2 separate regions of the Homo sapiens genome follow, and region 2 is linked to region 1. Evidence: fine-mapped expression QTL. A gene starts in region 1. The other region holds a variant in brackets. All regions are shown on one strand. Distances are from middle to middle. Region 1 holds the start of NAA40 (N-alpha-acetyltransferase 40, NatD catalytic subunit). Region 2 holds the start of COX8A (cytochrome c oxidase subunit 8A).

Region 1 (5,364 bases):
GAAGTGTTGAACTAGAACGGCATGTTACACTTCTTGTTTTCTGCTTAATCCGCAGTGGCTGCTTCTGGTTAGACAGTTACTAAGGGACACAGGTTTCATTTAGTTTCAACAATGGCTGTGTCTAGGACCTTTCACCAAAATTTAGGTTAAATATGCCTAAGGTCTCTAGACTTGGTTTTCTACATATGAAGTACGTAATACCCAAAACTATTTGTTAAAACACGATGACTGTTTTGACACGGATTAGACAACTATTTTTGTCTAATAAGTTGATTTGTTCAGTCGATAAATAGTGGAGTGACGGGAAAAAAAAAAACTAGGTTAACAACAGTAGGGACAAACCCAATGGGTTAAAAATAGCACAAATCCATTTTAGATCAGTAAAGTTAAGGCTGAGGATACAGACAAAAATAACAGCCACTACTTAGGAGACACCTCCTTAGCAATCTACATCCATTATCTCACTTAATCTTCACTACTACCCTAAGGGGGAGGTATTAGCATCCCAATTACAGAGGTGAGGAAATTCAAACACATAAAGGCCAACTCACTGGCACACTATTATACCACCAGCAGCGAAGACGGGGCTGGAAGTGAGGTACCTCGGGCTCCAAAGTCAGGGTTCCCTTAAGGTGATGGAAATTCCATGTAAATACTAATATAGGCCTGTGTGGTGGCTCACGCCTGTAATCCCAGCACTTTGGGAGGCCTAGGCGGGTGAATCACGAGGTCAGGAGTTCGAGACCAGCCTGGCCAACGTGGTGAAACCCTGTCTCTACTAAAAATACAAAAATGAGCCGGGCATAGTAGCGGGCGCCTGTAATCCCAGCTGCTGGGGAGGCTGAGGCAGGAGAACCGCTTGAACCCAGAAGAAGGAGGATGCAGTGAGCCGAGATCGCGCCATTGCACTCCAGCTTCGGCGACAAGAGCAAAACTCCATATCAAAAAAAAAAAAAAAAAAAAAAAAAAAGAATACAGCCAATACTAGGAAAAGCGTTATCTTTTTAGGAGGGTGACTGATACTGCTGTAATTGAGACTTAGTAAGGTGAACGCACAGAAACTTGCAAATAACTTCTGCCCTACCCTATATCCCGGGAAAGTAAACTAAAATGCACCTCCAGGCTGCCGGCACGGAACAAGTGGTCAATATCCATCCGCGGCTGGGCCGCCGCCCCCGCCTCCCCGCATCTTCCCCGCACACCTGCACAGCCCTCCCCTTGCAAAAAACACCTGCACTACCAAAACCCCTAACAACCCAAGCGGTCGTAAGAACCATTTCATTGCAACCAGGAGGCGTCGAAGGCAGGAGTCTATGGGAAAGGAAGGCTGTGTTTATCAGGAGCAGCAGGAACCTGGTGGAGAGGTTTCGAAAGAGTGTAGGGGAACCGGCTTCGCTGAGACTCGAGTAACGGGAAGGGCAGTGGACTGGGATTCGGGAGGCCCAAGGTGGGGTCTGACGCCCCCGACAATATGACCTTGGCTAGGCGCCTTCTTTCCTCTGGGCCTCAATTCCCTCCAAGCCAGGGTTGACCTCGGATGTGAAAAGCGACGAAGCTGGTGACAGCCAGGTGATGAGTGACCCTGGGGGAGCGGGAAGCTAACCCCAGGGTCCCCGCGGGGGACGGTGGTGGGGAGGCCAGTAACGGGTCCGCGAAGCAGGAAGGGGCGGGCGTGACGCTGGGGGCGCCGAGGGGGTGGGGCCCCGGACCAGGGGCTCTCCAGAGGATTCCCGGGCTAGGCCTAGCGTAGGGACCCTTAGAATGGGGGAGTCGGGTCATGTGGGGGTCAGGGGTCACGTGAGGCTGGAGGGGGTCGGGGTCACGTGAGAGGGGGGTTTAAGAACAAAGGGGGCGAGGGTAGCGAGGAGCGCCCCTGGACCTCCCATCTCCTCTCTCTGCCTCACTCACCCCCATAGCGGCGGCGACAACGCTCAGCTTCTTCTTCACACACTTGCCGGCAGGGAGGCGGCAACGGCGGTGGCTGCAACAGCGGCGGCAGCAGAGCGGACGGCCCTGCAACGCGCATGCGCCTCGCAGCTTCCCCCCCCCCCCCCGCCCAACCGCGCGCCCTCGTACCGCGCCGGCGCAGAACCGGCGCAGGGCAGCGGTGAGCCGGCGCGCAGGTGGAGCGCCCGCTAGGCTGGCCGAGGGTCTCCGACCAGGAGGAGGCGGGAGCGCGGAGGAGCGTCGCGCCGGGAATGACGTGCGGCCAGAGCCCGCCCCCTCGCAGGGCTGCGTCTGTAACTATGGCAACGGCGGCGCCAGGCCTGGCTGCTCACCCAGGCCGTGAGTCGCGCGCCGCTGGGGGCCGGGTGGTTGGCAGCACCTCCCCTGCGGCCAGCGACTCCTTGGCCCCGCGCGTAGCAGCCGGCGGCACAGCCACCTTCCCAGGCGGCCAATCGCGTCTCGACCTCTAAAGTACCTGCCCCTCCAGAGCCCTAGCGCGCGTAGCGGAAGTCTTTGGAAACTTTCCCACCTTCCAGATCTTGACTCTTGAAATTCCTTTTCTAACCAGAGTCCTGTTACTCATTCATTCGTCTTCTAACCATTCATTCCCCCTCATTCATTCACGTTCTCAATAAAAATTAACTCGCATCTACGCGGTGCTGAGCCCAGGGGGCACAGAGAGGAGCGAGGTGCCATCTCAGCGCCACACCTCAGGGTTTAGAGGGGAGACGGGCACGTAAGCACTGTTTAGGAGAGAGTGGACAGTGCTGTTAGCGTGAACACCAGGCATCCCGGAAAGTTTTAATTTCAACCCATCCCCAGCACACCGGAGTGACCCGCACGTGACCCGAATCCAAACCGCCGGGGGCGCTTCCGCAGTGTGCACACCTCTGCCAACCTCCCCCAGAATCTCCAGGGGTGGAGCCAGAGTCTTCACTTCCTAGTGCTCCCCAGGTAGGGAGCGAAAATTAGTGAAATGCTTCAAGACGAAAATTAGTGAAATGCTGCCCAACACTTAAGCTTCATGGACTTTTTCAGGTTTTGCTCATTATTCCATCTTTTTGTTTTTTTAAGAGACAGGGTCTCGCGGTCGCCCAGGCTGGAGTGCAGTGGTGCAATCACAGCTCACTGCAGCCTCGACCTCCTGGGCTCAAGCGATCCTCCCGCCTCAGCCTCCTGAGTAGCTGGGACTACAGGTGTGCACTACCATACGCAGCTCAATTTTTATTTATTTTTTGTTGAGATGGGGTCTCACTGTGTTACACAGACTGGTCCCAAACTCCTGGGCCCAAGCGATCCTCCCACTTTGGCCTCCCAAAGTGCTAGGATTACAGGCGTCAGCCACTGTGCTTAGCCTCATTATTCCAACTTTAGTGCTCAGTACAGTGGTGGCCTCAACAACATTTATCCAGTGCCTACTGTATGCTAGGCACTGTTCCAAGCAGCAAGGAAAACAACAATAAGAAACAGAATAGGCACCACCCTTGTATCCTAGAAGGAGGAGACCGATAATAGATGAAATAAATAGGTAATATACATAGTTAGTTAAATGATACAGGCTCGGCCGGGCGCGGTGGCTCACGCCTGTAATCCCAGCACTTTGGGAGGTAGAGGCGGGCGGATCACGAGGTCAGGAGATCGAGACCATCCTGGCTAACACAGCGAAACCCCGTCTCTACTAAAAAAATACAAAAAATTAGCCGGGCAGGGTGGCGGGCACCTGTAGTCCCAGCTACTCGGGAGGCTGAGGCAGGAGAATGGCGTGAACCCGGGAGGCGGAGCTTGCAGTGAGCCGAGATTGTGCCACTGCACTCCAGCCTGGGCGACAGAGAGAGTCTCAAAAAAAAAAAAAAATGATACAGGCTCTAGAAGGAAGAAAAAGCAGGGAGAGAGCACAGGGAAGGTCAAGATTTATAGTTGTGGCCTGGCGCAGTGCCTCACACCTGTAATCCCAACACTTTAGGAGGCTGAGATGGGCGGACTGCTTGAGCTCACGACTTTGAGACCAGCCTGGGCAACAGAGTAAGATCCTGTCTCTGCAAAAAAATTTAAAAATAAAAAAAAATTAGCCAGGCGTGGTGGCGTGTACTTGTGGTCCCAGCTACTCTGGAGGCTGAGGTTAGAGGATTGCTTGAGCCCGGGAGGTGAAGGTTGCAGTGAGCCGATAGCGCCACTGAACTCCAGCCTGGGTAACAGAGCCAGACTCGGTCTCAAAAAAAAATAAAATAAATAAAAGCTTGGCGCAGTGGCTCACACCTGTAATCCCAGCACTTTGGGAGGCCGAGGCAGGCAGATCACGAGGTCAGGAGATCGAGACCATCCTGGCTAACACCATGAAACCCCATCTCTACTAAAAATACAAAAAAATTAGCCGGGCATGGTGGCAGGCGCCTGTAGTCCCAGCTACTCGGGAGACTGAGGCAGGAGAATGGCATGAACCGGAAGGCGGAGCTTGCAGTGAGCCAGGATCGTGCCACTGCACTCCAGCCTGGGCAACAGAGCGAGACTCTGTCTCGAAAAATAAAATAAAATAAAATAAAATAAAATAAAATAAAATAAATAAAAAAGGCCGGGCACGGTGGCTCACGACTGTAATCCCAGCACTTTGGGAGGCCAAGGCGGGAGGATTACCTGAGGTCAGGAGTTCAAGACTAGCCTGACCAACATGGAGAAACCCTGTCTCTACTAAAAATACAAAATTAGCTGGGTGTGGTGGCACATGCCTGTAATCCCAGCTACTCGGGAGGCTGAAGCAGGAGAATCACTTGAAGTGGGGAGTCAAAGGTTGCAGTGAGCCAAGATTGTACCGTCGTACTCCAGCCTGGGCAACAAGAATGAAACTCCATCTCAAAAAAAAAAAAAAGAGAGAGATTTATAGTTTTAACTAGGATGCTCAGGAAAGGCAAACATGAGGTGATACTTGAGTCAAGATCTGAAGGTGAGGGAGCAAGTAATGAGGACGTCTGGGGAAAGGGCATTGCAGGCAGAGGAGGTCCTAGAACCACCCTGGCTTCTGGGTTGAGATGAGAATGTAGGGACAAGGTCAAAGGAAGGACAGTCCAGGCTGGGCAAGGTGGTGGCTCATGCCTGTAATCCCTGCACTTTGGGAGGCTGAGACAGGCAGATCACTTGAGGTCAGGAGTTTGAGACCAGCCTGGCCAACATAGTGAAACCCCATCTCCACTAAAAATACAAAAACTAGCCAGGCGTGATGGCAGGTGCCTATAATCCCAGCTACTCGAGAGGCTGAGGCAGGAGAATTGCTTGAACATGGGAGGCGAAGTTTGCAGTGAGCCGAGATCAGGCCACTGCACTCCAGTCTGGGCGACAGAGCAAGACTCTGTCTCAAAAAAAAAAAAAAAAAAAAAAAGAAGGACAGTGTCCAGAGGCCACTGCTATAATCAAGGCAACAGATGA
Region 2 (5,364 bases), 37 kb before region 1:
CTGTAGTCCCAGCACTTTGAAAGGCTGAGGTAGGAGGATCACTTGAGCCCACGAGTTCAAGATCAGCCTGTCCAACATAGTAAGACCCCATCTCTACAAGAAAATGTTTTAAGAAACTAGCCAGGTATGGCTGGGCGCAGTGGCTCATGCCTGTAATCCCAGCACTTTGGGAGGCCGAGGTGGGCGGATCACGAGGTCAGAAGTTCGAGACCAGCCTGACCAACAGGGTGAAACCCCATCTCTACTTAAAAAAAAAAAAAAAAACCATTAGCCGGGCATGGTGGCGAGCGCCTGTAATCCCAGCTACTCAGGAGGCTGAGAATCACTTGAACCCGGGAGGCGGAGGTTGCAGTGAGTCGAGATTGTTCCACTACACTCCAGCCTGGGCAACAGAGTGAGACTCAGTCTCAAAAAAAAAAAAAAAAAGATGAAACTAGCCAGGCATGGTGGTAGCACATGCCTATAGTCCCAGCTACTGGGGTACAACCTGTGGTGGGAGGATCGCTTGAGCCTGGGAGGTCAAGGCTGCAGTCAAAGTCAAGGCTACAGAGCTGTGATTGCGCCACTGCAGTCTAGCCTCAAAAAAAAAAAAAAAAAAAGCGGGGGCACGGAGCGGTCTCTCACGCCTGTTAATCCCAGCATTTTGGGAGGACGAGGAGGGTGGATCACAAGGTCAAGAGTTTGAGACCTGGCCAACATGGTGAAATACCATCTCTACTAAGAATACAGAAATTAGCCAGGTGTGGTGGCATGTGCCTGTAATCCCAGCTACTCAGGAGGCTGAGGCAGGAGAATTGCTTGAACACCAGAGGCAGAGGTTGCAGTGAACCGAAATCACACCACTGCACTCCAGCCTGGGTGACAGAGCAAGACTCTGTCTTGAAAAAAAAATTAAAAAGGCAAGATTGCCAGGCGCAGTGGCTGTAATCTCAGCACTCTGGGAGGCCAAGGTGGGTGGATCACTTGAGGTCAGGAGGAGTTCGAGACCAGCCTGGCCAACATGGTGAAACCTCGTCTCTACTAAAAATACAAAAAAAAATTAGCCGGGCGTGGTAGTGGGTGCCTGTAATGCCTCAGGAGGCTGAAACAGCAGAATCCCTTGAACCTGAGAGGCGGAGGTTGCAGTGAGCCGAGATCGCATCACTGCACTCCAGCCTGGGCAACAGAGCAGGAGTCAGTCTCAAAAAAAAAAAAAAAAAAAAAAAAAAGCCAAGATTCTGCAAAGTCCCTACCCCCAATTAGGAAGGGCACCAGCACCTAAGAAATGAAGTCCACCAAAAAGGAAGACCAGAGAAGGCTGGCCCCTTAGAGGAAAGGCTTCTAGCTGAAGATCCAGCCCCAGTGGGACACACACACACACACACACACACACACACACACACACACACAGACACATACACGCCCATTGGGCTTTGCACAAACAAGGGAGCTGGAGGGGATGAGCCAGAAAAGCTGCACAATGACAACAGGCTTTGTCTTCCCAGGAAGCCAGGCACCATTTAAAGGTACAGAAGCACACGAGGAGTCCAGCTGAGGCACACAAAACCTACCACAGGGCAGCCAGCCGGGCGCTCTTCTCCACACCTCCACCCAGTGCCAGTGGAGGCATGAGCCCAGGCAGGAGGGAAGGCACAATGAATTTCTGAAGTAAAGTTTAAATAGATTTTATTGTTACAAGGGGGACCCCACCAAGCAGGGTCAGTGACCCCCAAGGAGGTCACCATGGAGACATCAAGAGGTCATGATTGCAGAAGAGGTGACTGGAATTGAATGACATGATCCAGGGGAGGCCGGCCACAAATGCAGTAACATGACCAGGATGGGCCGGTGGGGCTGGTCAGGTCACAGTGTGAGGGACAGAACGGACCCCTTCACTCTGGCCTCCTGTAGGTCTCCAGGTGTGACAGGATCCAGCCCGCTGGCAGGAGGAAGGTCACGAAGCAGGAGGTAAGCCCAACGGCCAATTCCTACACAGAGCACAAGAAAGAAGGCACCTCGGAGTCAGTATTCCCCTAGGCTCTCTAAGTCCTTGCAGTTCCCAGGCAGCAGAAAGCCCCGCTCAGGGAGCCAGGACTCAGAGGCAAGTGGGAGGCCCCGCATCCTCACGTTAAAGGAATCCACGCTCCACGGAGCAGACAGAGCAGGTCCAAAGCTACGCTAACCCTTGAGGTAAAGGGTCAGTTATAAGGAGGGGGAAGAGTGAGAGGAAGGAGAGACAGCTGGGGTTAGGGTTCAGGGAGAAATGCACCACCAGATGGTAAAGGAAGGGACAGGAAGCAGGATTTATTGAAACCTGTTTTAAAGCTGGTCTGGGCCGGGCATGGTGGCTCACACCTGTAATCCCAGCAATTTGGGAGGCCAAGGCGGGCGGATCAC[A/G]AGGTCAGGAGTTAGAGACCAGCCTGACCAACATGGTGAAACCCCGTCTCTACTAAAAATACAAAAAATTAGCCGGGAGTGGTGGCGGGCGCCTGTGATCCCAGCTACTCGGGAGACTGAGGCAGGAGAATGGCTTGGCTTAAACCTGGGAGGCGGAGGTTGCAGTAAGCCGAGATCGCACCACTGCACTCCAGCCTGGGTGACAGAGCAAGACTCCGTCTCAAAAAAACAAACAACAAACAAAAAAAGCAAAGCCTGTATGTTAAGACCCAGGATCCTTGCATGGGCCAGTAACTCCAAAACGATACCTATCCTTCCTTGCCTGAAAACCCCCTCCCAGGCCGGGCGCAGTGGCTCACGCCTGTAATCCCAGCACTTTGGGAGGTTGAGGCAGGCGGATCACGAGGTCAAGAGATCGAGACCATCCTGGCCAACATGGTGAAACCCCGTCTCTACTAAAAATACAAAATTTAGTTGGGCATGGTGGCACGCGCCTGTAGTCCCAGCTATTCGGGAGGCTGAGGCAGGAGAATCGCTTGAACCCGGGAGTCGGAGGCTGCAGTGAGCCGAGATCGCGCCACTGCACTCCAGCCTGGCGACAGAGCGAGAACCCGTCTCAAAATAAATAAGTAAAATAAAATAAAATAAAATAAATAGCAGTAACAACCATTTTCGTCGCTGACAGCGTCAGGCATCCCCCAGTGAACCAACGAGAAAATGGGCTCAGAGCGGCTAAAGAAGTCGGCAGGAGGCGGCGCAGCGAGGAGGCGACAGGAGAGGGAGGGCCTGACAGGACCAGACCCGAGATCCTGGGGCTGTGGGGAAAGACCTAACGCCGACAGCCCCGACTGTCGCCCGGGCACTGTCCCCGTCGTTCGCGCCCTCCAGACATGCCCAAACCGGCACTGCTGCTCCCCGCTACGCTGCGGGGCGCGAGGCATTCTCAGGACCACCTGAGGTCAGCTAGGCAGAAGGGGTCAGCCCACGGCGCCTCCCGCGCTCTTCCAGGCCCGTTCCTCACCATGATCCCAAGCTTCCCCTCCGGCGGCAACGAATGGATCTTGGCGCGCGGCACTGGGAGCCGCCGGGCCGAGCCTGTCAAGCCCCGCAGCAGCAGCGGCGTCAGGACGGACATGATGGCACGGAGTACACCACAAAAAACGGTCAGCCGTAGCCCAAGGTCAGGAAGCCAAAATGGCTGCGCTGGCCGGAAGTTCTGGAGCTGGGGAAGCAGGGAAACTGCGGCGCGGAAGTCTCTCGGAAATGACGCAAGAACACACCTCCCACAGCCCTTGGCAGTTTTTGGCGCGTTCCTCGAAACAGCCAATTGACACCTTCCTACGCTATGGGCGGAGCACAAAAGGGCTCTTCTTCGAGTTATGTTCCGCCTCCAAGGCTTATACTTGTGAATGACATCTGGGGCCACCCAATCATGTACGCGAGAAGCCTAAACTGTTCTTGACTCCTCCCTTCATTCATACTGTTAAATCTCTCTCTATTCAGGCTGGGCGTGGTGGCTCACGCCCGTAATCTCAGAACTTTTGGGAGGCCGTCTGTACTAAAAAAAAAAAAGTACGGGCTGGGCGCGTTGGCTCACGCCTCTAATCCCAGCACTTTGGGAGGCCGGGGCGGGTAGATCATCTGAGGTCAGGAGTTTGACACCAGTCTTGCCAGCATGGTGAAACCCCATCTCTACGAAAAATACAAAAATTGGCCGGGCGCAGTGGCTCACGCATGTAATCCCAACACTTTGGGAGGCCGGGGCCGGTAGATCATCTGAGGTCAGGAGTTTGAGACCAGTCTTGCCAGCATGGTGAAACCCCATCTCTACGAAAAATACAAAAATTGGCCGGGCGCAGTGGCTCACGCTTGTAATCCCAACATTTTGGGAGGCCGAGGCGGGTGGATCACCTGAGGTCAACAGTTCGAGACCAGACTGGCCAACATGGTGAAACCCCGTCTCTACTAAAAATACAAAAATTAGCTGGGCATGGTGGTGGGCGCCTGTAATTCCAGCTACTCGGGAGGCTGAGTCAGGAGAATTGCTGAACCCAGGAGACGGAAGTTGCAGTGAGCCGAGATTGAGCCATTGCAGTCCAGACTGGGCCACAAGAGCGAAACTCCATCTCAAAAATAAAAAACAACAATAAAAAAAGTTCGAAAGCAGCCTGGCCAACATGGTGAGACTCCATCTCGACTAAGAATACAAAAAATAGCCAGGCATGGTGGTAGATGCCTGTAATCTCAGCTACTAGGGAGGCTGAGGCAGGAGAACTGCTTGAACCCGGTAGGCAGAGGTTGCAGTGAGCTGAGATCACGCCACTGCACTCCAGCCTGGGCGACACAGCAAGACTCCGTCTCAAAAAAAAAAAAAAAAAAAAATCTCTCTATTGAGAGTCCCCTCCTCTCCACCAGGCCTCCGTCGTTTTTGTTGAGAATTCCTGACACTGACCTAGTAACCAAACCTCCCTCAATTACTATTACACTCTTCAATTCCAGTTACCATGCTGGAGCAGCCAACTTCCCTTCCTTCCTACCCTATCACTCTCTCTCCCTCCCCCATCCCTTCCTTCTTGGTTTTTTAAACCTAAATCTGACCAAGTCATATACTTTCAGTGGCTCCCCATTGCTTCCTAGTCAAAATCCCAATTCCCGGATGTCACTGTCCAGCCTCAACTCTCAAAACTCTTCAATATTCCACACCTTCGACCCTGCTCTCTGATTTCCACCAACAAGCCTTTTGTTGCATTCAAAATGCACTCTGCATTTTGTTATTGATGTTGAGACAAGGTCTAGCTCTAAGCCCAGGCTGGAGTGGAGTGTGGTGTGATCTCGGCTCACTGCAGCCTTGCAACCTCCACCTCCCAGACTCAAGCCAACCTCCCACCTCAGCCTCCCAAGTAGCTGGGATTACAGGTGCCCACCACCATGCCTGGCTTTTTTTTTTTTTTTTTTTTTTTGAAATAGAGTCTTGCGCTGTTGCCCAGG

What was found.
Region 2: its variant is fine-mapped to the expression of NAA40 in whole blood (TOPMed, PIP 0.90).

Annotation. Positions count from the first base shown.
Region 1 is chr11:63,935,647-63,941,010 of GRCh38, reverse strand. It overlaps NAA40 (N-alpha-acetyltransferase 40, NatD catalytic subunit), which reads right to left and starts at 2,009. Exons shown (of 8, transcript NM_024771.4): 1 at 1,909-2,009. The coding sequence starts at 1,914. RefSeq lists silencers at 1,903-2,088, 2,018-2,097, 2,358-2,407 and enhancers at 2,128-2,267, 2,506-3,006.
Region 2 is chr11:63,972,828-63,978,191 of GRCh38, reverse strand. It overlaps COX8A (cytochrome c oxidase subunit 8A), which reads right to left and starts at 3,572. Exons shown (of 2, transcript NM_004074.3): 1 at 3,398-3,572; 2 at 1,649-1,967. The coding sequence starts at 3,511. The coding sequence ends at 1,872. RefSeq lists enhancers at 244-921, 3,219-3,658. The variant A/G (reference allele first, on the strand shown) is at 2,377.